Linked DNA regions of Homo sapiens. The protein of the gene in region 2 interacts with the protein of the main gene of each other region in a pairwise test. Each region holds a gene or a part of one and is shown on either strand. Other genes may lie near its edges. The genes, in order: SAV1 and PKLR.

Region 1 (16,764 bases), on a different chromosome or scaffold from region 2:
AGAGTACACTCTGCTTCTAGTGAGTTCCAATTCTGTTTATTAAGATTTTCATACCCATGGCAGTGATTGATACTCCCACACTCCATATTCAATGTCAGCAAATTTGGTTGGCTTTCTTTAAAATATGTCTAAAATATGTCCACTTACCTCTCCACCTATTATTGCCTGGGTCCAAGCCAGCAATAACTTCTGACTGATCTCCCTTTTGCCCTTAGCTCCATTGTCTACTCTCCACACAGCATCCAAAGCAGTCCTATGAAAACATTAACTCAGATCATGTCACTCCTCTGCTCAAAGTAACATTCCTTACAATGGCCTACAAAGCCCTAGGTGCCGTGGCTATTGTTACTCTCTAACTGCATTCCCCATTCGTCTCCCCGTCTTTTCCAGTACATAAACCCTCTTACTGTTCCTCCAATCTGCCAGGAACATGGCCACTTGCAGCGACTTTGCACTTGCTGTTCTTTCTGCCTGGAATATTGTTCCTCCAGTTAGCTGCATGGCCAATTTCCTCACTCTGTCACTTAACTCCAATGTCACCTCCTCATGAGCCTTCTCTGGTCCCTCTATTACCCTCTCAAAAATTGTGAGTCCTCTCTTATTTTCACTTCATCACTTATCACTATCTAACATAGTATGTTTTGCTTATTTTTTGTCATTTTTTTCTCTTTCCCATGACAGTAGGGATTTTTGTCTGTTTTGCTTATTGCTCTATCACAAACGACTAGCGCAGTGGGTAATGAGTATTTCCTGGTTAATGAATGAATTGTGGGAGATCTGCACCAAGGGAACATATGGAGACAGACACTAGATCAAATGTCTCCTTTGTTTGCTCATGGTAAAACATTTGACCATCTTCTTAATCTTACGTGGTAAAAAATTCCATGTCTTTTGTTAATTGTGATATATGTCTTAGATCTCTTGTGAGATGTTTTAGATCTCAGGGAAAGCATTCCTCATTATTAAAGCATTAATTTGGTCACTAGGGGATGAATCCAATCTTATTTTCCAAATGTTATCCTGTACATTTGGCAGTCTTGCTAAGTTATATAGAAGGAAGTAGAGTCTATTATTTTAGATAGAAAATTCCCGGTCCCGACTCGCAGTGGTCAAAGTCTTCAAAATTCTAAGATCATAACACATAACGTCAGGAGGAAATATGTGGCTATTAATCATACTAATGATAGTGATGATGCAATAAAATAATTGTAATATGCTAACACCAATTGTATCTTAAAAAGAGGTACTGGAAATTCCATCTTGCATTCTTCCGTTTTTTCCTGTTATAGAAAAACGCACTCCCTGATACTCAGTAGAGGATCAACTTATTTCTAGTTAATCAGCATGAACGTTTCCAGCAGAATAGATGCTTTGGTGTAGCACTTGCCTGGGAGTCATGGTTAGCATTCCGCATTTTTTAGAGAGCTGAATTCAGCAGCCTAGGAAACATTAGGAAGAACACCTTCAAACAGGGAACAACGTCTTGGGGGGAAAGAGAGTCACTGCCTCCGCTAGGGATCCCGAGGGGGTACAAAAGCAACAACAATAAAAACTCGTGGAGAGTAGGTTCCACGACATGCGCATGCGACGAACTCCCGCACTCAGCGGGGCAGGTTTCGTCCTTCATCTTCTCAGTCGGCAGGACCTGCTTCTCGCTGAGGATGAGTGAGGACAGCCGCAGCTCGGCGGGGACGGCCCGGTAGCCTAGAGCGCCGGCACCCGAGTCCCGCCGCCGGAGCCGCGCCTGGAGCCGCGGTGGGGGAGGGGCAGCGGCGGCCCGCGCTGCGTCGAGCTTCCCAGAATTCCCAGCGGCCGCGGGGAAAGTTTACGGGATGTAGGCGGCGGCGGCGGTAGTGGTAGCGGTTATTCGGCGGCCCGCGGCGGACCATGGCCCTGGCCCTGGCCCGGCGTCGCTGGGCTTTCCTCACGGCGTCCCCGAGCAGCGTCGCAGAGCGGGCCGACTTCCGGGAAGGAACTGACCAGCGACTGAGCGGCGGCCGGCGCGCTTAGCGCCCTGAACATGCGGCAGTCCCTGCGGGCGACCCCGGGCTCCGGACAGGCGGCGGCGGAGGCGGCGGCTCGGGAGGGAAGGAGGCGGCGGCGCCGGCGGAGGTGGCGGCGGAGACGGCCGGCGCCCGGCGCGGAGCCCTAGGGAGGCAGTTCAGCGCGGCCTCGGGCCTCGTCGAGAAGGATGCTGTCCCGAAAGAAAACCAAAAACGAAGTGTCCAAGCCGGCCGAGGTGCAGGGGAAGTACGTGAAGAAGGAGACGTCGCCTCTGCTTCGGAGTGAGTGTCAGGCGGGGCGTGCCCACACCTGGCCCAGGCGGCCAGGTGCTCCGGGGACCCTGGCGGGGGCGCCGGCGGGTCTCCAGGGCTTCTCCTTCGTCCTTGGTCGCGTGAAATACTGGTTTTGAGATTTTCTTGTGTCTGAAGTGGTATTCGTTGATTGAAAGCCCATAAGAGTAAGAAACTTGGGTTAGTCCCCCCCGCGCCTAACCCCCCCAAGAGCACCCCCTAAAAATAACAGACTTCCTCGCCCCACCAGGCAGAGTTGTTGGTTTTGATTACTGGAAGAGAGAGTAGGAAACATTTAAATTGCTTATCACCTAATGCTATAGGAGTAAAAGTAATTAGACAGGGACACTTTTTACTCTTTTAGATGCGTCGAGATGTGCGTCATGTTTGCAAACATTGCGGGTGTCTCTCGACTGTGCTGCAAGTTGTGCGAACTCTGGGGCAGAATTCCTTAGTCCTGCTGCCGGATGCAGACTTGAGAAGGTGAAAAGCATACCGTCGTTCTTGTAGCCGCCACCCAAAGCCTCATCACTCTTACACAGCAGAGCAGAGAGCCAAAAGCCTTTGTATTTGGCTATATTCGTGAGATTCCAAGAAGGCAACTCAAAATAATTTCTATCGTATTAGAGAACCCCCCCCTCGAAAAGTTTTTTTTTTTAATAGGGTAGATCCCACTCCCAATCCCCACCTCCGGTCCCCCGCTGCTTTTCTTCTTAATGTAAGTATTTGATTTTTGAGTTGAATCTCTTGAATTTTTAATTCTTGTGTGTTCAGGACATTTGTGAGGCATGGAGCTGGTATTTTGGTGCTCTTACTGCGCCCTGGGCCCTTTGCTTAAGTTTCCTTCTTGGAAGCTGGTAGTAACCTTGTGACTTAAGTATTACCTCATATTGTAATTGGGAAAGTTAGGTTTCTAGTATTTGCCCAAGATCACACAGATGGGAGAGCATGTTTTTCCATCATAACCACATTGTCAGCCTTCCAGATTTATGGTGGTACTTGCAATACTTTCAACAAAATATATGTCAGTTGAGTACATCAGTAACTCGAAACTTGATTTTTAAGTTGTTTTTTTTTTTTTTTAACAACTTGATTTTCAGTCACACATGCAGTTAGGTTTCTGGCTGTTTTTAAGTGATAGCTTGCTGTTTGCTGCAAATAAAGTTTATCAGACATTACTTGAAATCGTGAATTATGTTTGTCACACTTTTTATTATACTTTAAGTTCTGGGGTACATGTGTAGAACGTGCAGTTTTGTTAATGTTTGTCACAGTTAAGCAAATAACTTTTGATCTACTTTGTTTTGTTGTCGTTACATCAAGTGTTGAGCCTTATTTATTCAGATATTTGTTTCTGTCCAGTGTTAGTTTCTGAAGCTTATTAATATGAGTGTCTCCAATATTGTTTACTTGATGAATAATAAGAGGGTCTGCATATTCAGGTTTTTGTCTTGTTTTAAAGGTATTTGCTTTCTAACTGGGAATGTCTTAAGCTGTTTTCAAGTTTCGTGTTTAAAAGTACTGTATCCTAAAAGCTGTTGTTCTATTATCTACTATTTTGAATTATAATTACATAGTTTCAGGCTTGGTTTTTTGAGCCACTTCTACATTTGTGTGCTTCTTTGAAATGAGAGCTTTTTATTTTCAATTTTCATACATAAATTTTTGGCTTTCTAGCTTTTGATTACTGTGCTAGTGCTAGGTAATTCCAAGAGAAGAAAGAGCTACTAATTTTTTAATTTTTAAAGGAATCCACTTTTACATATTTGGGAGTAGCATTAAGTTCTATTTTTGAAATTGTGTTTGCTTCAAGAAGGATTTTTGGCAGTTTCTAAAATGAAGTGAGAACAACAAAATAAACTACTTAACTAGAAACTATCAATTTGTTATATTATTTCCTATTTTTATACATTAATTCATGAGCATTTCATTAATGTGTAGTTCATAGATAAGATTATTGATATTTTATCATATTATGTATGGTAGTATGCAGAATACATTTTATTCTAGCTGAGCTTTTACGCATAGTCCATTAATGCAAGTTATATAAATTCATTTGATTGGGAAAATATTAATCTTCCTCAATTTAAAATGCCCAAGTACCATCCTAAACCAAAATTTAAAATTGTGTTTTCTTAAGTTGACTGACATTTTGATTTTGGGGTGGTAGACATAAATGAACAAATTTCGAAAACTTTTGTTACTTAATGATGAAAGGGTAATTTTATCCTTTGTTTTATTGTAGATCTTATGCCTTCATTCATCCGGCATGGTCCAACAATTCCAAGACGAACTGATATCTGTCTTCCAGATTCAAGCCCTAATGCCTTTTCAACTTCTGGAGATGTAGTTTCAAGAAACCAGAGTTTCCTTAGAACTCCAATTCAAAGAACACCTCATGAAATAATGAGAAGAGAAAGCAACAGATTATCTGCACCTTCTTATCTTGCCAGAAGTCTAGCAGATGTCCCTAGAGAGTATGGTTCTTCTCAGTCATTTGTAACGGAAGTTAGTTTTGCTGTTGAAAATGGAGACTCTGGTTCCCGATATTATTATTCAGACAATTTTTTTGATGGTCAGAGAAAGCGGCCACTTGGAGATCGTGCACATGAAGACTACAGATATTATGAATACAACCATGATCTCTTCCAAAGAATGCCACAGAATCAGGGGAGGCATGCTTCAGGTAGCTTAACATTATAAATAATATAGTAGTTTATATTTATTGACATGTCAATTAAAAAGATGTTCTTTTCTAGATTTTCTTGGGACACGAACAAATACTACTAGCGAAATGTTTTTCCACTTTGCTCATCCTGCTTAAGCCTGTGTGCAAATAGTTGTTAATCTACACTGAATGGAAGAGTCCTTGTGACCATTTATTTTATTAACTCATGTTATGTAAACTTGGTATTTATCTCAAGGCTGTCTAGACTCTTAATGCTGTGACCCTTGAAAACCTAGAGAATTTAATGTCTCCAGTTGGGCTGAATTTAGGTTTAGGTTTGGTAGAATAATGGGAAGGGTAAGTCTTCAGAGACACTTGACGGAGTCCTCAGAGACACTTGACAAACTTGGGAAAGGAAAGAAGAGTAGGAACAACTGGGCATGCTCAGTGATACCCTGAGCAACCACATTACTTCGCTAGATCCTGCCCTTTTTCTCAACAAAAAGTAGTTCAAGAATTATTTCCTGAGTTGATCAAAAAGACTTATTGTCATATGGTTAATTATGTGTTGAGCATGTCTTTTTATTATTTTTGTAACAGACAAAAAAAATTACCATATAATTTAAGAAAAGAAGGTACTTTCCATATCTCCTGAGTTGGAGATACTTCTGAAAGGAGCAGAAGAGATGGGAGAAATGTACAATTCTACTTTATTCCTGAAGTCCTGGTTTTACCAGATAAAATGAAGTGAGATGAAAATTAAACTTTCTTGTCTGATTTTTTTTTTCTACCAAGTTATAGACTTTAAATTTTGGCAGGATAAAAATAAAATGTGAGACAGATTTACTTTTTGGCTCACATAACTTCAAATAAGGCGACTTAAAAATGGTTTGGAGCATTAGTATTTTGACTGTAGAAAAAATTTATTCATTTAATATTAACTGTTTATGTGTCTAGCGTTTTCCTTGGGTCTGTTGGTCTCTGCTTTCTGGTACCTTATTTGTCTAGTACCTTATTTGTGGAAACAAAACCAATCTATACACAATGGTCACAGAAAAATTGTTATACTTTGTGATACTAACTGTAAGTGCAACAGGGAATCAGAAGAGAGATGAGTATAGGCTGGAATACTTAAAGAGATGATTCATGGAAGAGGTAGGACTTGGAGTGGGCCTTGAGCTTGGCCTTTAGATTAACAAGGGCCAGAAGAAGGACATTTTACGTGGAAAATTGGGAATAGCACAATGAAAACAGAGTAGGCATGGTTTAAATATAAGGAACAGTGTAGTTCTGCCTGGTTTGAAGAAATAAGATGTAAGGTTGAGTGGAGATTTGTGGTTCAACAATAGGCTTAGATTTGAGTCAAGTGGAAGCTCTTGCACATTTCGGAAAGACAAGTGATTTTATGAAAGCAGTGTTTAAAGATTAGTTTTGTACTAGAATTAAGGGTAGATTCCTAGAGAAAAGAGGATTGCAGGTACCAGTGGGTACCAGTGGTAATAGGAAAACGCAAATCTAGGATGCTTTTAAAGGAAAAATGAGAATTAGAGTTTAGGAGAAAGCAGATCACTGAAGTTTTAAAAATAATGTGGAATAGTTGGTAAGAACAACTTATTTTATGAAAGCTGACATCAGAGTCTCACTGGAACATTGTAGAGGAGAGGTTTTCTAGGCATGTGGAAATGCAGTAAGAGGCATGGGTAAAAGCACCTTTTAGTTTTTAAGGAATTAGGTTAAAGAATTAGCTGCATGCTTGAGTGTTTATTTTGGTTATTTCTGATATGCAGTTCTGAACCTCAGGAATAATTTGTTATCTAACTAAAATAGTAAGTTTTAAAAATAAAGCTCATTTATATTTTCTTCTAGAATAATAACTGCTTATTACAGGAAATTTGCAAAATGCAGAAACGTAAAGGCAAAGTACCTGTCCACCAGAGATCCTCTTAGTATGTTATTTTCTTCATCTTTTTCCATGCCAAATTCTTTTTTTACATGGATGTGATTATATAATATTTTGTACAGTTTTCTGTTCTTTTTACTTGAATGATTTTCTTCATGTTGTATACTTTTTATGAGTGGTTTTAATGACTGCGTAATCTTCCATTTGGTGCATATTCAGTGGTTAATGAGGACTTGACCTATACTTCAGAAATTTGGAAAGAGGAGAAGTGGGACACGCCCACATTAATGGGACTTGGCCACTAACGGGGTTTGAAGGACAAAGGAGAGGGAAGAGTCAGATAGGATTAGCACAGCACATGACTGCCTAAGAGATGCTCACAAAAATAAATGGCTGAATGAGTGAATGAACCCAGCGGTTTTAAATCTGGAGGCTTAAGACAGTTTTTGGTAGCTGAGGGAGAACAGAAATAGCTATGTTTACTGTTAATATAGAATATGTGTTATTCTTTGCGTTCACCTTTCCCACCTATATTGTAGACGTCACTGATAGCTTGTAATACTTTTCTACCTGAGGTTTAAGTATGTAAATATGAGGAATTAATAACAAGTTAAACTCTTGTTTTGAAAATCTAATTTGCCAAATATAATTGAGGAAATACTATAAGAACTAAATCTCTACTGATCCTCTCTTAGGAGCAATTTGAGATAATTTTTCTAAGTTTAAAGACAGACTTTAAAGCAACTTTCCAGTCACAACTTCAAAATAAAGTACAAGTTAATTGCATACGTTTTCAGATTCAAGTATGTCATTAAAAAAATAAGATTTCAGGCTGGGCACGGTGGCTCACGCCTGTAATCCCAGCACTTTGGGAGGCCAAGGAGGGTGGATCACGAGGTCAGGAGATTGAGGCCATCCTGGCTAACACGGTGAAACCCTGTCTCTACTAAAAATAAAAAAATTAGCCGGGCGTGGTGGCAGGCGCCTGTAGTCCCAGCTACTTGGGAGGCTGAGGCAGGAGAATGGTGTGAACCCGGGAGGCGGAGCTTGCAGTGAGCTGAGATTGCGCCACTGCACTCCAGCCTGGGCAACAGAGTGAGACTCCGTCTCAAAATAAATAAATAAATAAATAAATAACAAGATTTCAAAACACTGATGAAAGAAATTGAAGAGCACAAAAACAAATGGAAAGACATCCCATGCTCATGGGTCAGAAGAATTAACATCATTAAAATGACCATGTTGCTCAAAGTAATCTACAGATTGAATGCAATCCCTATTAAAATACCAGTCATTTTTCACAGAAATAAAACAATCCTAAAATTTCCACAGAACCAACAAGGAGCCCAAATACCCAAAGTAATCCTGAGCAAACCGAACAAAGCTAGAAGCATCACACTACCTGTCTTCGAAATAAGGCTATAGTAACCACATACAAGGTTATAGTAACCACAAATAAGGCTATAGTAACCACAATAATATGGTATTGGTATAGAAAGACACATAGACCAATGGAACAAAAATAGGTAATGCAGAAATAAATCCACATATTTACAGCCAACTGATTTTTTTACAAAAGCACCAAGAACGTGCATTGGGAAAAGGACACTTTCTTCAATAAACGATGCTGGGAAAATTGGATATCCACATGCAGAAGAATGAAATCTGACCCTTGTCTCACCATATGCAAATTCAACTTGAGATGGATTAAAGACTTAAGACCTGAAATTATAAAAGTACTAGAAGAAAATGTAGGGGAAACACTTCAGGACATCGATCTAACAAAGATTTTATGGCTAAGACCTCAAAAGCACAGGCAACAAAAACAAATAGACATATGGGACTATATTAAACCAAAAGGCGTCTGCACAGTAAAGGAAACAACAGAATGAAGAGACAACATATTGAATAGGAGAAAGTGTTTGCAAAAGATTCATCCAGCAAGGGACTAATATCCAGAATATGCAAGGAAGCCAACAGTAAGAAAAACAACCCCATTAAAAAGTGGGCAAAGGACATGAATAGACGTTTCTCAAAAGAAGACATACAAATGGCCAAAAGGTATGTGAAAAAATGTGCAACATCACTAATCGTCAAGGAAATGTAAGTGAAAACCACAGTGAGGTGTCTTACCCCAGTCAGAATGGCTATTGTTAAAAAGACAAAAAAATATACTACTGGTGAGAGTGTGAAGAAAAGGCAACTGTTACAGACTGTTGGTGGGAATGTTACAATAATTAGGACAGGCACTATGAAAAACAGTTTGGAAATTTCTCAGAAAACCGAAAACAGAACTACCATATGATCCGGCAGTTCCACTGCTGGGTATCTATCTAAAGGAAAAGAAATCAGTATATCAAAGAAATACCTGCACTCCCATGTTTATCATGTCATTTGCAGCAGCTTGAATGGAACTGGAGGTCATTATATTAAGGGAAATCAGGCACAGAAAGAGAAGTGTCTCATGTTCTTACTCACATGTGGGAGCGAAACACATTGATTTCATGGAGATAGAATGATAGCAGAGGTTGGGAAGGATGGGAGGGGAGGTAAAGAGAGGTAGGTTAATGGGTCCAAACATAAAGTTAGATGGAATAAGTTCTAAGGTTTGATAGCAGAGTAGGGTAACTACAGTTAACATTTTGAAATAGCTAAAAGAGAGGACTTGAAATGTTCCCAACACATAGAAATGATAAATACTCACGGTGATGGATACCCTAAATACCCTGACTTGATTATTTCATACTCTTTGCATGTATCACAATATCACATGTACCCCATAAACATGTGCAAATAATTATGTATCCAAAAAATGCTATAAAACAATGTTACCACCTGACTGGGCTCTTGTCTGCTATCCGAATAGAGCAGAACACTGAGACAGCAGATACTGTAAAGAAGAAAGAGTTTAATTATTGCAAGGCAGCTGAGTAAGGAGGATGGGAAATGTTTCTCAGAGTCATCACCGCCAAGACTGGAGAAGCTAAGATATTTAAAGATGATTTGGCAGGCAGGGGGCTAGGGGATGGGTGCTGGTGATTGGACTGGTATGAGATCATAGGGTTATCAATGCTGTCTTCATGTGCTGAATCAGTTGCTGGGAAATTGGGGAGTCACAAGACCAAGTCAGTTCCTTGGTTGAGTTCATGGAACACTGGTCCATTTGGTGTCAGTTGGTCCACTTGTAAGCAAAGTCTGAAAAATATCTCGAAGACCAGTCTTAGGTTTTACAGTAGTGTTTGTGACTGCCAGTTACTATGGAAAGAAAGCTGGGAAAAAATGGCAGGTTACTGTTTAAACCTATAGCTTAGCAGAAGAGTTTGCAGGAGGTGAGATCACCAGTGATCAAAGTGGCCTGGCCTGTTTGGCCAGTCCAAATTCTGGAAACTATCAAGGGGGTCTGTGTGATCTAGGATCATTGTTTTCTTGTTCTTCTCTTCTATTTTCTTTTTTGAGACAGGATCTTGCTCTGTTGCCCGGGCTGTAGTGCAGTAGCATGATCACAGCTCACTGCAGCCTCGACCTCGGGCTCAAGCAATCCTCCCACCTCAGCCTCCTGAGTAGCTGGGACTACAGGCATGCACCACCACACCTGGCTAATTTTTTGTATTTTTAGTAGAGACTGAATTTCAGTGTTGCCCAGGCTGGTCAAACTCCCAAGCTCAAGCAATCTGCCTGCCTTGGCCTCCCAAAGTGCTGGGATTACAGGCATGTGCCGCAGCACCCAGTCTGGATTATTGTTCTTTAAAAGAAACAGGTTTGTTAATCTTATGGGCAGCCTGCCCAGGGGCTGCCACAGGAAGACAATTATTAGTGACTGCCATTTGTTGAAATGACTTTGCAAGCAGTCATACATGGAGGTGGAAAAAGAGAAGGAAAATATTTTATCAAAATTCGGGCCCCTACCGTAATTTTAATCTTGAGGGTGTTTTTAATTTTATGAGGGAGGCTTCAGCAGGAGTCAGCAAGCTACACCCATAGGCCAGATAGACTTGCCTCCTGCAATACAGTAGTTTTATTGGAACACACATGCACTGAAATAAGATTTGATTTCATGGAATAGCCAAGACCTTGTTTTAATGAGACAGTAGACTTCTGCCTTCGAAGTCTCATCCCAGGCTCTTTTATATCAGATTGCGTTAGGTTTAAAGAAGGTTGCAGGTAGTTGAAGAATCTCAGGTAATAAGGTATCTCTCCCAACCAAAAAAAAAAAAAAAAAAAAATTCTTTACAGCAGTTGATACACTGCTTGAGAGCTTGAGAGACTTCATTTGATAAGATTAATTTTTATCAGGGCAATATAGATTTAATGTTTTACCTTGTAGAAAAAAGTAGTACTTTTTTTGAAGGAATCTCTAAAGTTGCAGGGAAAGATTAATAACCAATTACATGCCAAACAGAAAAGCCTAATAACTGCCTCTTCCACAAGGGAAAAATCTGAATATGAGACAGTAGCTGAAAGTTTCTTGAATTCACCTTGAGAAGACTTAAAACATATTTTTAGGATTTATGCTGAATAAGGTTCAAGGAATTTGAATGAATAGAAAGGAGAAAGTAAGTTTGTAGGAGGATAGGATAGGTTTGTGCGATAGATCTATTTTCAGAAACATTGAATTTTGATTGTCATAAGCATAAAAAGGTTGGAAAATTTGTTTTGTAATGACTTAATGGCAATAGTAATTCCTGTCAATTAGTTATTAGATTTTCAGGAAACACCTTGTGTCAAGGGTTAAATTCAGCTTATTGTATTTAGTAGAAGCACAAAAACAAGTTGTATAATCTCAGAAAGTTTTAGAGCCTAGAAAGTTCTACGTTTAGCTGTAGAACTTTCAGATTAGAAAATTTGACCTTTAATGTTCTTGGCCGCATACCAGTCACGCACTTACTGTATGTTCCAAAGAAAGGAATCCTGCTGTTAACAGGAAGTCTTTAGTTGGAATACTAAAGGCAGACTGAATTCCTTTGTTTTGCGCTTAAATTTTAGTTCTGTCTCGAAAACATTTTTAAACGTTTAAAGATGACTAAAGAAATCAGGATACAAAAATCAGACTGAAAAGTGTGAGCTTTATCAAGAAATACTGGATTTGCAGTTACTCGGGTAATGTGTAAATATTTGTGTAACCAGAATCTTTTGAGGAGGGGTTGATAATCTTTAGAGACACCACCTTTTCTGTATTTATTTTGCAGAGGAAGAGAGAAAGCATTTGGTTGAGTTTAATACTTAGATCTTTTTATCAACATCTTGATTATAACACATGCTAATAATGTGTAGCATCCATTACTAGGGACCCTGTGGAACTGTGTTAGAGCTCTAGATCCATTTTATTCTCTGTAGCCACTACAAAATTTGGAAACCGGCCTATTTGAGTCTTATTCATAATGGTAGATCTCATAAATATCTGCCTGGTTGTATGAGATTAAGTTTTTTGGCACATCTACTGATAGCTGAGAGAGAAAATAATACTTTATCTGTGTCTTCGACTAAGTCATATGTTTAGTGTGTGAATGTTTTACTTTGTATTAATAGAAGGTGTTTGTGCAGTTAATTCCTGCAAATAGAAGCTGTTTTGAGGATTAATTGTGAATCCAGTTTATTACTTTCAAGGACTACTTGAAATTACAGAAAGGTAATTTTGTTCTTGTCACTCAAAAACTGAAGTTACCATTTTTTCCCACTGATTTGGATCAAAATTGGTGGCTTGCTTTTTCTTTTACTAGTGGTAGTCATATTTTTCTTTAAAGAATAAATAACAATTGATCTTTTGTTGCTGAGATTACATGGTTAGTAACAGGTTTGCATTTGACCTTATACCACTTGTTGTGTGACCACTGGTAAAATAATTCACTTGAACCTGTTTTCTCATCTGTAAATTGGTGGTAATAGTACTACCTCCTAGAGCAGTTTTGGCTATGAAATAAGACATATGGAAAGAGCTGGGGATAGAATACACATCCATAACTGTTTGCACATGTCCTTTGTAAGAGTGAGTATTTCCCAGCACTTTGGGAGGCCGAGGCAGGTGGATCACAAGGTCAGGAGTTCAAGACCAGCCTGACCAACATGGTGAAACCCCGTCTCTACTAAAAATACAAAAATTAGCTGGGCATGGTGGTGTGTGCCTGTAATCCCAGCTACTCAGGAGTCTGAGGCAGGAGAATCGCTTGAACCAGGGAACCCGCGGTGTGGAGGGTGCAGTGAGCCAAGATTGTGCCACTGCCCTCCAGCATGGGCGACAGCGTGAGACTCCGTCTCAAAAAAAAAAAAAAAAAAAAGTGAGTGTTTTGTGTTCTGTGCTTTTCCCACATACTTGGGATGTTAGTTATTGAAGTTTGAGCTTTCTGGCTGAACTCATACTGGAGGAATGATTTATTAGAGCTTGACATAGCTTTTTTATTTTTTAATCTTCTGGATCTGTTTTGGTAATGCTTTATGCTTTAGAACAGTGGTTTGCATTGTTTTGTACTGTACATTTATCTCAATAGATTTTGTAAAATTATCCCAAATAATAATTTGAAAAAATATATCACACATTGTGCTTTCAGAAAGTACAGCTGGGGCCGGGCACGGTGGCTCACGCCTGTAATCCCAGCACTTTGGGAGGCTGAGACGGGCGGATCATGAGGTCAGGAGATCGAGACCATCCTGGCTAACACAGTGAAACCCCGTCTCTACTAAAAATACAAAAAATTAGCCAGGTGTGGTGGCGGGTGCCTGTAGTCCCAGCTACTCAGGAGGCTGAGGCAGGAGAATGGCATGAACCCAGGAGGCAGAGCTTGCAGTGAGCGGAGATCGCGCCACCGCACTCCAACCTGGGCGACAAGAGTGAGACTCCATCTCAAAAAAAAAAAAAAAAAAATACAGTTGGGGTATGTTTTGAAATTATTAATAGATATCTCTAAGAAAGTTTAGGAATCATGGCTTTACAGGGCATTGGAGTTTTTTAATAGCGTTAGTAAAGCTGATGTGCCTATTTGCAACTTTTTGGGTACTTCATGGCTCCTTTATCAAATTGTCAGGCTTTAAAAATGAGAGTATTTACAGAGAGGTCTTTGTGCTTCCTTTAAATATGAATCCCAAATTTATAGTCAGATATGGCTTTTGGTACCTAATGTTGTTTAAATGTAAGAGTACATGTGGTTCTAGATTTAGGCAAGTTCAGTACATATATGGAAGTATGGGTTTTCTTAATAGATGAAATTGCCACAAACTTTTAATACGCTCTAAACCTGTATAGTTTTTGTTTTTGTTTTTGAGACGGAGTTTCACTTTTGTTGCCCAGGCTGGAGTGCAATGGCACGATCTTGGCTCACCACAACCTCTGCCTCCTGGGTTCAAGTGATTCTTCTGCCTCATCCTCTCTAGTAGCTGGAATTACAGGCATATGCCACCATGCCCGGCTAAGTTTGTATTTTTAGTAGAGATGGGGTTTCTCCATGTTGGTCAGGCTGGTCGTGAACTCCTGACCTCAGGTGATCCACCCACCTCGGCCCCCCAGTGCTGGGATCACAGGCATGAGCCACCACACCTGGCCCTTGTCTTGTTTTTAATTACTATAAAGGCTTTTGTTTTTAGGCAGGGTATAGTGGCTCACGCCTGGAATCCTAGCACTTTGGGAGGCCAAGACAGATGGATCACCTAAGGTCAGGAGTTGGAGACCAGCCTGACCAACACGGTGAAACCCCATCTCTACTAAAAATACAAAAAGTAGCCAGGCATGGTGGCAGGTTCCTGTAATCTCACCTACTCGGGAGGCTGAGGCAGGAGAATCGCTTGAACCTGAGAGGTGGAGGTTGCAGTGAGCCGAGATTGCATCACTGACTTTAGCCTGGGGGACGAGGCTAGACTCTGTCTCAAAAAAAAAAAAAAAGGCAGCTTTTGTTTTTAATAATGCAGTATTTAGAATTTTGTTTCTATTATATATTTCCTGAGGGAAGCTCTGTTAGCCAAAATATTATGGCTTTTATAAGTAACTCATATAAATACACTGAATTGACTATACATTAGAAAAAATTGTTACATTGTTATGCTTGGTTTTGGCTGTAAAGCATTTTTAACATAATGAACATATTAGAATGTAAAGTAATTTTGTGTTTCTACGATGTGATATTAAAGTCATTTGCTGTGTACATGTGTTTCATACATTGGCTTCTTTTCTGTTTAAATATTTTCTCTTTAAGTACTGAAGTTGCTTAAACTATACATATTAAACTTTCAATTGCAGTTTAATAGAAGCCTAAGGTCAGTTTCACCAAAAGGCTTGTTTTGTTCTGTTTTATTGTCACCATCTTTAAAAAATTATATGTTAGCTTTCTTTTGAAAGGGTACCGAACAAGGGTGATCTACTTGTTCTTGCATCTGTTTTTGTTCTTGCATCCTTTTTGCCAGAATACTGCATAGATAATGTTGTGTACTTTCTATTGCATAGGTTCCAGTGACATATAATGACTGATTTGTCTGTGATGTTAAGATGCAGCCATGGGTACAGATGTCAGCTTAATTCATCCATCATCATGAAGTTCTCCATAAGCCTTTTATCTATTATTGGTTTTTGGCAGCCATTAATGATCATTGGCTAGCACTATTACAGGCATACCTCATTTTATTGTGCTTTGCTCTATTGTGTTTCGCAGATACTGTGTTTTTTACAAATTGAAGGTTTGTGGCAGTCCAACAGCACGTGCGCATTTCATGTCTCTGTGTCACATCTTGGTAATTCTTGCAATATTTCAAACTTTTTTCATTTCTGCCTGTTATGGTGATCTGTGATCAGTGATTGCTCATGTTACTATTGTAATTGTTTTGGGACATCACAAGGAATTGCACTTGTGTGCAAACTAAACTAAAATAAGAAGTGGAGCCTGATGATGTGACTGCATTGCTGCTGGTCTCATGATAAAACTTGAACAGATGAGTTGCTTTTTATGGATGAGCAAAGAAAGTGGTTTCTTGAGATAGAATATACTCCTGGTGAAGAAGCTGTAAATATTGTTGAAATGACTAATGATTTAGGATATTAAATAAATTTAATTGATAAAGTAGCAGTGGAATTTGAGAGGATTGAGGCCAGTTTGAAAGAAATGCTACTGTGGGTAAAATGCTGTCAAACAGCATCACATGCTACAGAAAAATCTTTCATGAAAGGTAAAGTCCATTGATGGAGCAAACTTCATTGTTGTTTTTAAGAAATTGCCACAGCTATCCCAGCCTTCAAACACCACCAGCCTGATTAGTCAGCAGCCATCAATATGGAGACGGGACCCTCCACTAGCAAAAAGATGCTGTGAACTCACTAAAGGCTCAGATAATCATTAGCATTTTTGTAGCAATACAATTTTTTTTATTAAGACCTGTACTTTTTTTAAAGATATAATGCTATTGCACACTTAATAGACTGCAATATATTGTAAAATATAACTTTTTTTTTTTTTTGAGATGGAGTCTCACTCTGTTGCCAGGTTGGAGTGCAGTGGCATGATCTCGGCTCACTGCCACCCCCACTTCCCAGGTTCAAGCAATTCTGCTGCCTCAGCCTCCCGAGTAGCTGGGACTACAAGTATGCGCCACCAGGCCCAGCTAATTTTTGTATTTTTAGTAGAGACAGGGTTTCACCATGTTGGCCAGGATGGTCTCGATCTCTTGACCTCGTGATACACCTGCCTCGGCCTCCCAAAGTGCTGGGATTACAGGTGTGAGCCACCGTGTCCGGCCGTAAAGATAACTTTAAGGTTCACTGGGAAACAAACAAATTCACGTAACTCGCTTTATTGCAATATTCACTTTATTGCAGTAATCTGGAACCAAACCTGAAATATCTCCAAAGTATGTCTAAGTGTTGCAAATTTTGATACTTGAATTCTGTCATTTCTTCTTTATTAGTTGGAATATTATAATTAAGGACTTTA
Region 2 (8,657 bases):
CATGGTGGTGCGTGCCTGCAATCCCAGCTACTCAGGAGGCTGAGGCAGGAGAATCGCTTGAACCCAGGAGGCGGAGACTGTGGTGAGCCGAGATCACACCATTGCATTCCAGCCTGGGCAACAGGAGAAAAACTCCATCTCACAAAAAAAAAAAAAAAAAAAAAAAAAAAAAAGTGGGCTGGGCTCAGTGGCTCATGCCTGTAATCCCAGCACTTTAGGAGGCCAAGGTTGGCAGATCGCTTGAGCCCAGGAGTTTGAGACCAGTCTGGGTAAATGGCAAAACCCATCTCTACAAAAAATACAAAACTTAGTTGAGTGTGGTGGTGCATGCCTGTAGTCCCAGCTACTCAGGAGGCTGAGGTGGGAGGATCACTTAAGCCCAGGAGGTCACGGCTGCAGTGAGTCATGATCGAGCCACTGTACTCCAGCCTAGGTGACAGACGAGACCCTAGAGAGAAAGAGAGAAAGAAAGAAAGAAGGAAAGAAAGAAAGAAAGAGAGAGAGAAAGAAGGAAGGAAGGAAGGAGGGAGGGAGGGAGGGAAGGAAGGAAGGAAAGAAAGCAAGCAGGCAAGAAAGAAAGAAAGAAAAGAAAGAAGGAAGGAAGGAAGGAAGGAAAGAAAGAAAGAAAGAGAAAGAAAGAAAGAAAGAAAGAAAGAAAGAAAGAAAGAAAGAAAGAAAGAAAGAAAGAAAGAAAGAAAGAAAGAAAGAAAGGAGTGAAAGTTGGCCGGGCATGGTGGCTCTTGCCTATAATCCCAGCACTTTGGGAGGCTGAGGCAGGTGGATCACCTGAGGTCAGGGGTCCGAGACCAGCCTGGCTAATGTGGTGAAACTCTGTTTCTACTAAAAATACAAAAAATTAGCCAGGCATGGTGGCATGTGCCTATAATCCCAGCTACTCGGGAGGCTGAGGCAGGGGAATCGCTTGAACCCGGGAGACAGAGATTGCAGTGAGCCAAGATCACGCCATTGCACTCCAGTTTGGGCAACAAGAGCGAAACTCTGTTTGTTTGTTTGTTTGTTTTTAAAAAAAGAAAAAAAAGCTGGGCGCGGTGGCTCACGCCTGTAATCCCAGCACTTTGGGAGGCCGAGGCGGGCGGATCACCTGAGGTCAGGAGTTCGAGACCAGCCTCAACATGGAGAAACCCCGTCTCTACTAAAAATACAAAAAATTATCCGGGCATGGTGGTGCATGCCTGTAATCCCAGCTACTCAGGAGGCTAAGGCAGGAGAATTGCTTGAACCTGGGAGGCGGAGGTTGCGGTGAGCCAAGATCGTGCCATTGCACCCCAGCCTGGGCAACAAGAGCGAAACTCCGTCTCAAAAAAAAAAAAGGCCAGGCGTGGTGTTTCATGCCTGTAATCCCAGCACTTTGGGAGGCCGAGGCAGACTGATCACGAGGTCAAGAGATCGATACCATCCTGGCCAACATGGTGAAACCCCGTCTCTAATAAAAATACAAAAATTAGCTGGGCGTGGTGGCACATGCCTGTAGTCCCAGCTACTCGGAAGGCTGAGGCAGGAGAATCACTTGAACTGGAAGGCAGGGAGCAGAGATCGCACCTCTGTCCTCCAGCCTGGTGACAGAGCGAGATTCCATCTAAAAAAAAAAGAAAAGAAAAGAAAGAAAAAGTGAAAGTTTTAAGTGCTATGGGGAAAGAAATCAAGTGTGATAAGGGCATCAGGAGTACGAGGGTGAAGACAGGTTGCAGCCCTAAATAGGGAGGTCAGTTATTATTGAGTAAATGAGACCAAAGGGAAGACTTGAAGGAGATGAGAGAATTAGCCATGCAGAGACCTGGGGGAAGAGAATTCCAGGAAGAAGGATCAGTCAGTGTCAAGGCCTAAGTCAAGAAGGTTAGAAGAGCTAGAAACCATCAAGGGGGAAGAGCGGCAGACATGAAGAGACTGTGTACGGACAGGAAGATCAGGTGCAGCTTTGTAGGCCATTTTTAGAATTTGAGTTGCGTTTTCCTCCGAGTGAAATGAGAAACTGCTGCAGGGTTTTGAGCAGGGGAATGACAAGCTCTTATTTATGTTTTAATAGAGCCTCCCCTCCCCTGCTGCTGCACTGAAAATAGATGGGGGGTGGGGGGAAGGGTGCCCCTGCAGTATTTCTGGCTCAGACCAGTTGGCGGCAGTGAGGTGGTGAGAAGTGGTCAGATTCTGAATGTATTTTGCAGGTAGAGCTGACAGGATTTGCTAATTGATCGGATATGGGGTATGGAGTGTGGGCGAGAAAGAAAGGAGTCAAAGGTGACAGGTGACTCTGAGGTTTTTGCCATAAGGAACTGGAACGATGCATTAGCCACTGAGCAGGAAAGACTGTGGTGGAAGGGGTTGGGGGGAGAGCAGAAGTTTGCTTGGGACATGTTGAGTCTGAGATGCTTATTAGCCATCCAAATGTGATAGAGGGGGCAGTCAGGTACACAACTCTGGGTTTGGGAGAAAGGTCTGGATTGGAGAGACATTTGGGAGTTGGCTACATATAGATGGTATCTCAAGCCATGAGACTAGTTGAGACCACCAAAGGAGTGTAGGTGAAATGACGGAGAAGAGAACAGGGTATCTAACGTTAAGGGGAGGAACAAGGAAAGGAGACTGGGAAAGAGCAGCTAGTGAGGTAGGAGTCAACCAAGAGAGGGTGCAGCCCTGGAGGTCAGGTGAAGACAGTGTGTCAAAGAAGGATGTATGTTCAGGCTGCTGATGGGCCAATAGAGGAGGACTGAGCATTGAGCATTACATGGAGCAAAAACACAGAGGTTCTTGGTGACCTTGACAAGAACAGATGCAGTGGAGAGATGGAGGCCAACGCCTGAGTGGGGTGGGTTCAAGGGAGAATGGGGGAGGGGAACTAGAGGTAGCAAGTACAGATAACTCTTGCGATGAGTTTTGCTGCAAGTGAGAGCAAATACTGGGACTGAGGGGAAACCAGGAGATTAAGAGAATTTTTTTTTAATGATGAAAGAAATAACAGTAGGTTTACCTGCGGATGGGGATGATCCAGTAAAAAAGGAAAACATGGCTGGGCACGGTGACTCACACCTGTAATCCCAGCATTTTGGGAGGGCGAGGTGGATGGATCACCTGAGGTCAAGAGTTCAAGACCAACCTGGCCAGCATGGTGAAACCCCTTCTCTACTAAAAATACAAAAAAATTAGCCAGGCGTGGTGGTGCACACCTGTAATCCCAGCTACTCAGGAGGCTGAAGCAGGATAATCACTTGAACTGGGGAGGCAGAGGTTGCAGTGAGCTGAGATGGTGCCACTGCACTCCAGCCTGGGCGACAAGAGTGAAACTCCCCCCGTCTCAAAAAAAAAGAAAGAAAAAGAAAAGGAAAACATGGGTGTCACAGAGGACCACAGAATGGCTTAATTTATGTCCTTGAGCAGGTGAGAAGGAGGAGACCTAGTGCACAAGTGGAAAGACAGATAGGGACCGAAGAATGAGCCAACCTGCTCTCGGCTAGCAGCTGCCCCATAGCAGTGCAGGCATGGGATAGAACTCAGCTCTCCTCAGTCCATGAGGCCTCCTAGCTCTAAAAGCCCGCACCCAAACGCCCTCACCTGGCTCCCAGCCCCTGCCCTACACCCCATACCCTGGGGTAGCCGGGCAAGCAGCACTTACATACCCATGCCCATACAGTGCCCATACATGCCCATACAGTGACCTCAGGCCTGGCGGAGGGCACTCCCCTCCGATTTCCACACTGCTGCCTCCCCAAGGGGATGGATGTTGGCTTGAGAGGGAAGGGGAGTCTGTGATCTGTGGGCAGGGGTTGCATCAGGGAATAAAGATCAGGTAACAGGACGCCTGTGGCGTGAGGCGTTCTGAGAATGGTAATGGGTTGGGTTTGGTTGCCTCTCATGTTCTGGGGGAACGTTGTCTGAACGTGAATCTCTGGTTCTAGGGCCAGCATCTCGCTCCGTGGAGCGCCTCAAGGAGATGATCAAGGCCGGGATGAACATTGCGCGACTCAACTTCTCCCACGGCTCCCACGAGGTGCGGGACGGGCCGCCGGGCAGTGGGTGGGGCAGGAGGATGCCTCGAGGTCCTGGCCACCTTCCCCTGAAACCCTCGCTCCGCTCCCTCCCCCAGTACCATGCTGAGTCCATCGCCAACGTCCGGGAGGCGGTGGAGAGCTTTGCAGGTTCCCCACTCAGCTACCGGCCCGTGGCCATCGCCCTGGACACCAAGGGACCGGAGATCCGCACTGGGATCCTGCAGGGGGTGAGCAGTGGGGCTGGGACTCGCTGGGCCAGGGCCGGAAAGGCGGCGCCTGTAGGGTTGGGCCCAGGCGTGGGCAGGGGCGGGTCCCGGACTCCGGGGCTCAGAACTCACATCTCCTCTGGCTCCCTCCTTAGGGTCCAGAGTCGGAAGTGGAGCTGGTGAAGGGCTCCCAGGTGCTGGTGACTGTGGACCCCGCGTTCCGGACGCGGGGGAACGCGAACACCGTGTGGGTGGACTACCCCAATATTGTCCGGGTCGTGCCGGTGGGGGGCCGCATCTACATTGACGACGGGCTCATCTCCCTAGTGGTCCAGAAAATCGGTGCGGACGCGCCTCCCGCCCTGACCACATCCGTGCGCTGGGCACATTCCCTTCTCCTTGGCTCCCCCATCAGCCCTCAGACCGATCACACCTTCCCCTGGCCACGCGTTTTTGCCAGCCCGTCCCAGGAGTCCCCAGCGTGTAGACTCTGCGCTCACCCTGGGTTTGGGCTGGACTATGGGTGGGTCGTTTCTTCCACGGACGTCCATCTGTGCCTCTTCCGGGCGAAGCCCAGAACAAGGGCGGAGAGATGAGGAGGACATGGTTCCTGACCTCTTGCGGGTCCAAGCCCCAGTGTCCTCTCTGCTGCAACTGTGCCCCGTCCTCACCCCTGACCGCAGCTGGCTCTTTCCATGTCCGCAGGCCCAGAGGGACTGGTGACCCAAGTGGAGAACGGCGGCGTCCTGGGCAGCCGGAAGGGCGTGAACTTGCCAGGGGCCCAGGTGGACTTGCCCGGGCTGTCCGAGCAGGACGTCCGAGACCTGCGCTTCGGGGTGGAGCATGGGGTGGACATCGTCTTTGCCTCCTTTGTGCGGAAAGCCAGCGACGTGGCTGCCGTCAGGGCTGCTCTGGGTCCGGAAGGACACGGCATCAAGATCATCAGCAAAATTGAGAACCACGAAGGCGTGAAGAGGTGAGGCTTGGGCTCTGTTCCCCTTCGGCCCTGTCGCTATTCCCCATCACCTTTCTTCTCCTGCCTGCCTCTGCCTTGATTCTCCCAACCTCTCAGGTTTGATGAAATCCTGGAGGTGAGCGACGGCATCATGGTGGCACGGGGGGACCTAGGCATCGAGATCCCAGCAGAGAAGGTTTTCCTGGCTCAGAAGATGATGATTGGGCGCTGCAACTTGGCGGGCAAGCCTGTTGTCTGTGCCACACAGGTCTGGAGTGAGGCCTTGAGGTTCGGCACTCTGTGGGTTTTAGGGACACCTGTGGGTGAATACCCACACTGTAGGGGTTTATTTTGTTTTGTTTTGTTTTTTGAGACGGAGTCTCACTCTGTCATCCAGGCTGGAGTGCAGTGGCGCAATCTCCGCTCACTGCAACCTCCGCCTCTTGGGTTCAAACAATTCTCCTGCCTCAGCCTCCCAAGTAGTGGGGATTACAGGTGACCGCCGCCATGCCAGGCTACTTTTTGTATTTTCAGTAGAGACGGGGTTTCACCATGTTGGCCAGACTGGTCTCGAACTCCTGACCTCAGGTGATCTACTCGCCTCGGCCTCCCAAAGTGCTGGGATTACAGGTGTGAGCCACTGCACCCAGCCCACACTGTAGGTTTATAGCACATTTGGATGAAAAGTGTTTGATCCTCAAACGACAAAGTTAAATATACTTTGACCCCTATTTTCAGGGGTTGTGACCAAACGACAAAGTTAAATATACTTTGACTCCTATTTTCAGGGGTTGTGACTGTGACCCTGGATTTTGGGACACTCTGAGAGTGTGGGTGTCAGAGAAGTAGCTTGGGCAGGGTCCCCAGTCACAGTGTGAGTCCTACAACTTTGACATCCACGCTGTCCCCCAGATGCTGGAGAGCATGATTACCAAGCCCCGGCCAACGAGGGCAGAGACAAGCGATGTCGCCAATGCTGTGCTGGATGGGGCTGACTGCATCATGCTGTCAGGGGAGACTGCCAAGGGCAACTTCCCTGTGGAAGCGGTGAAGATGCAGCATGCGGTAGGAGCTCAGAATGAAAAGCAAATGGGCCAGGGAACCAAATCCCTTCCATACCCCAGTGCCCCTTCCCAGACTAACATTCTGGCACCTGCAGATTGCCCGGGAGGCAGAGGCCGCAGTGTACCACCGGCAGCTGTTTGAGGAGCTACGTCGGGCAGCGCCACTAAGCCGTGATCCCACTGAGGTCACCGCCATTGGTGCTGTGGAGGCTGCCTTCAAGTGCTGTGCTGCTGCCATCATTGTGCTGACCACAACTGGCCGGTGAGGGGGATATTGGGAATGTCCAGATGGAGCTTTGGGTCAGGGGTGGGCTGGGACGGGCCCCAGGCTTGGGTTTAGTCTGGTCACCAGGGGTGAAGAGTGTCCACCTGAGACAAGAGGAGAGGCAGCAATGACAGCTGGAGGCCAGGAGAGACAGAATGCCAGTGAGCTTCTGGGGGCTGGAAGGGGACAGCGGCATCACTGGGCACATTGGCTTCAAGGCCATTTGGGCTTCTGGGGCTCAGAGGCAAGTCCATTCGGCCCACAGAGCCTACCAATACTGAGGTATTACAGAAGGGTCCAGTAGGTCTGAGTTTAAGTCTTTACTCAGAAATGTAGCTCTATTAGCCTGCTGTCTTTCCTCATGAACAGGACAAGGTAATGATTTGTTCTTCATGGGGTTGGCAGGATTAACAGGAGATATTAAGTACTAGATAGTACTTAATATCTATATAGTAAATTAAGCACATAATGGACTTTCTCAAAAGGGTTTTATACTCTTGGGTTTTTGTTTGTTTGTTTTGTTTTGTTTTTCTTTTGAGAACGGCAGCTCGCTCTGTTGCTCAGGCTGGAGTAAAATGGTGCAATCTCAGCTCACCACAACCTTCACCTCCCAAGTTCAAGTGATTCTCCTGCCTCAGCCTTCCGAGTAGCTGGGATTACAGGCGCATGCCACAACGCCCTGCATATTTTTTGTATTTTTAGTAGAGACAGGGTTTCATCATGTTAGCCAGGCTGGTCTCAAACTCCTGACCTCAGGTGATCCACCCTCCTTGGCCTCCCAAAGTGCTGGGATTATAGGCATGAGCCACTGTGCCTGGCCAGCTTTTATATTTCTTAAAGAGATTTCTCCTTATTATCTCATTTGATATATCTGTATTATCTCATATCTTTCTTGTGTGGTAGGGAGGGCAGGCATTCTTTCTTTTTTTTTTCTTAATGCAGAGATGGGGTCTCACTATGTTGCCTAGGCTGGTCTCCAGCTCCTGGGCTCAAACAATTCTCCCATCTCGGCCTCCCAAAGTGCTGGGATTACAGGCATGAGCCACCGCTCCCGGCCTGGGAGGCAGGCATTCTTACACTCATTTTACAGGTGAGAACACCAAGGCCCAGAGAAGTATGATGACTTACCCAGGGTCACACAGCTTGTTAGTGACACCTGGAACTGGAACAAAGATTCTCCTTTCCTCGTTCACCACTTTCTTGCTGTTCTGGGCTGACCTTCTCTGCCTCCTCCAGCTCAGCCCAGCTTCTGTCTCGGTACCGACCTCGGGCAGCAGTCATTGCTGTCACCCGCTCTGCCCAGGCTGCCCGCCAGGTCCACTTATGCCGAGGAGTCTTCCCCTTGCTTTACCGTGAACCTCCAGAAGCCATCTGGGCAGATGATGTAGATCGCCGGGTGCAATTTGGCATTGAAAGTGGTGAGCTACCTAGACCTTCCCTGCCACTCCTACCATTTGTATCAGGAGCCCCCCAACCCAGCTTCCCATACCCACTCAAAGGGCCTTGCCTCTCTCCTGTGGTCCCAGGTTTTCCCTGTGAGAGTCACTAAGACTGAGATATCAGTCTGGCATATCACAAATACCTCTTCCATCAGCATAGCCACACAGGCAGACGGCCGTGCTACTTAGCAACACACTCTGCCCTAGCCCACAGATACTCCTGCACCTTTTTTTTTTTTTGAGAGAGAGTCTTGCTCTGTCGCCAGGCTGGAGTGCAGGGGTACGATCTCGGCTCACTGCAATCTCTGCCTCCTGGGTTCAAGTGATTCTCCCACCTCAGCCTCCTGAGTAGCTGGGACTACAGGCATGCGCCACCACGCCTGGATAATTTTTGTATTTTTAGTAGAGACAGGGTTTCACCATGTTGGCCAGGATGGTCTCAATGTCTTGACCACGTGATCCGCCCGCCTCGGACTCCCAGAGTGCTGGGATTACAGGCGTCAGCCACCGTGCTGGCATCTCTTACACCTTTAATATACTGCAGTGGTCACATTCCCTGCATGCCACCCGTGGGACATACTTCACTGCCTCATTCCCTACAGGATGGCCTTGATGTGGTGAAAGGTGGTGGCTGGTTCTCGTTACAGGGCTGGCCTGGTCCCTCAATGACTAATTTTCTTTCTTTTCTTCTTTTATTATTATTATTATTATTATTATTATTATTATT

Evidence for each region.
Region 1: the proteins of PKLR (region 2) and SAV1 interact in a two-hybrid assay, tested with the Homo sapiens proteins (one study listed by IntAct).

The regions. Positions count from the first base shown.
Region 1 is NC_000014.9:50,653,395-50,670,158, reverse strand, and holds the start of SAV1 (protein salvador homolog 1), read left to right. Parts: upstream 1-1,852; 5' UTR 1,853-2,191; coding exon 2,192-2,285; intron 2,286-2,658; exon of another isoform or gene 2,659-2,777; intron 2,778-4,539; coding exon 4,540-4,980; intron 4,981-16,764. UniProt on the Homo sapiens protein: Regulator of STK3/MST2 and STK4/MST1 in the Hippo signaling pathway which plays a pivotal role in organ size control and tumor suppression by restricting proliferation and promoting apoptosis.
Region 2 is NC_000001.11:155,291,008-155,299,664, reverse strand, and holds part of PKLR (pyruvate kinase PKLR), read left to right. Parts: intron 1-3,908; coding exon 3,909-4,000; intron 4,001-4,096; coding exon 4,097-4,228; intron 4,229-4,362; coding exon 4,363-4,549; intron 4,550-4,912; coding exon 4,913-5,183; intron 5,184-5,279; coding exon 5,280-5,430; coding exon of another isoform or gene 5,431-5,450; intron 5,451-6,074; coding exon 6,075-6,227; intron 6,228-6,321; coding exon 6,322-6,488; intron 6,489-7,727; coding exon 7,728-7,909; intron 7,910-8,657. UniProt on the Homo sapiens protein: Pyruvate kinase that catalyzes the conversion of phosphoenolpyruvate to pyruvate with the synthesis of ATP, and which plays a key role in glycolysis.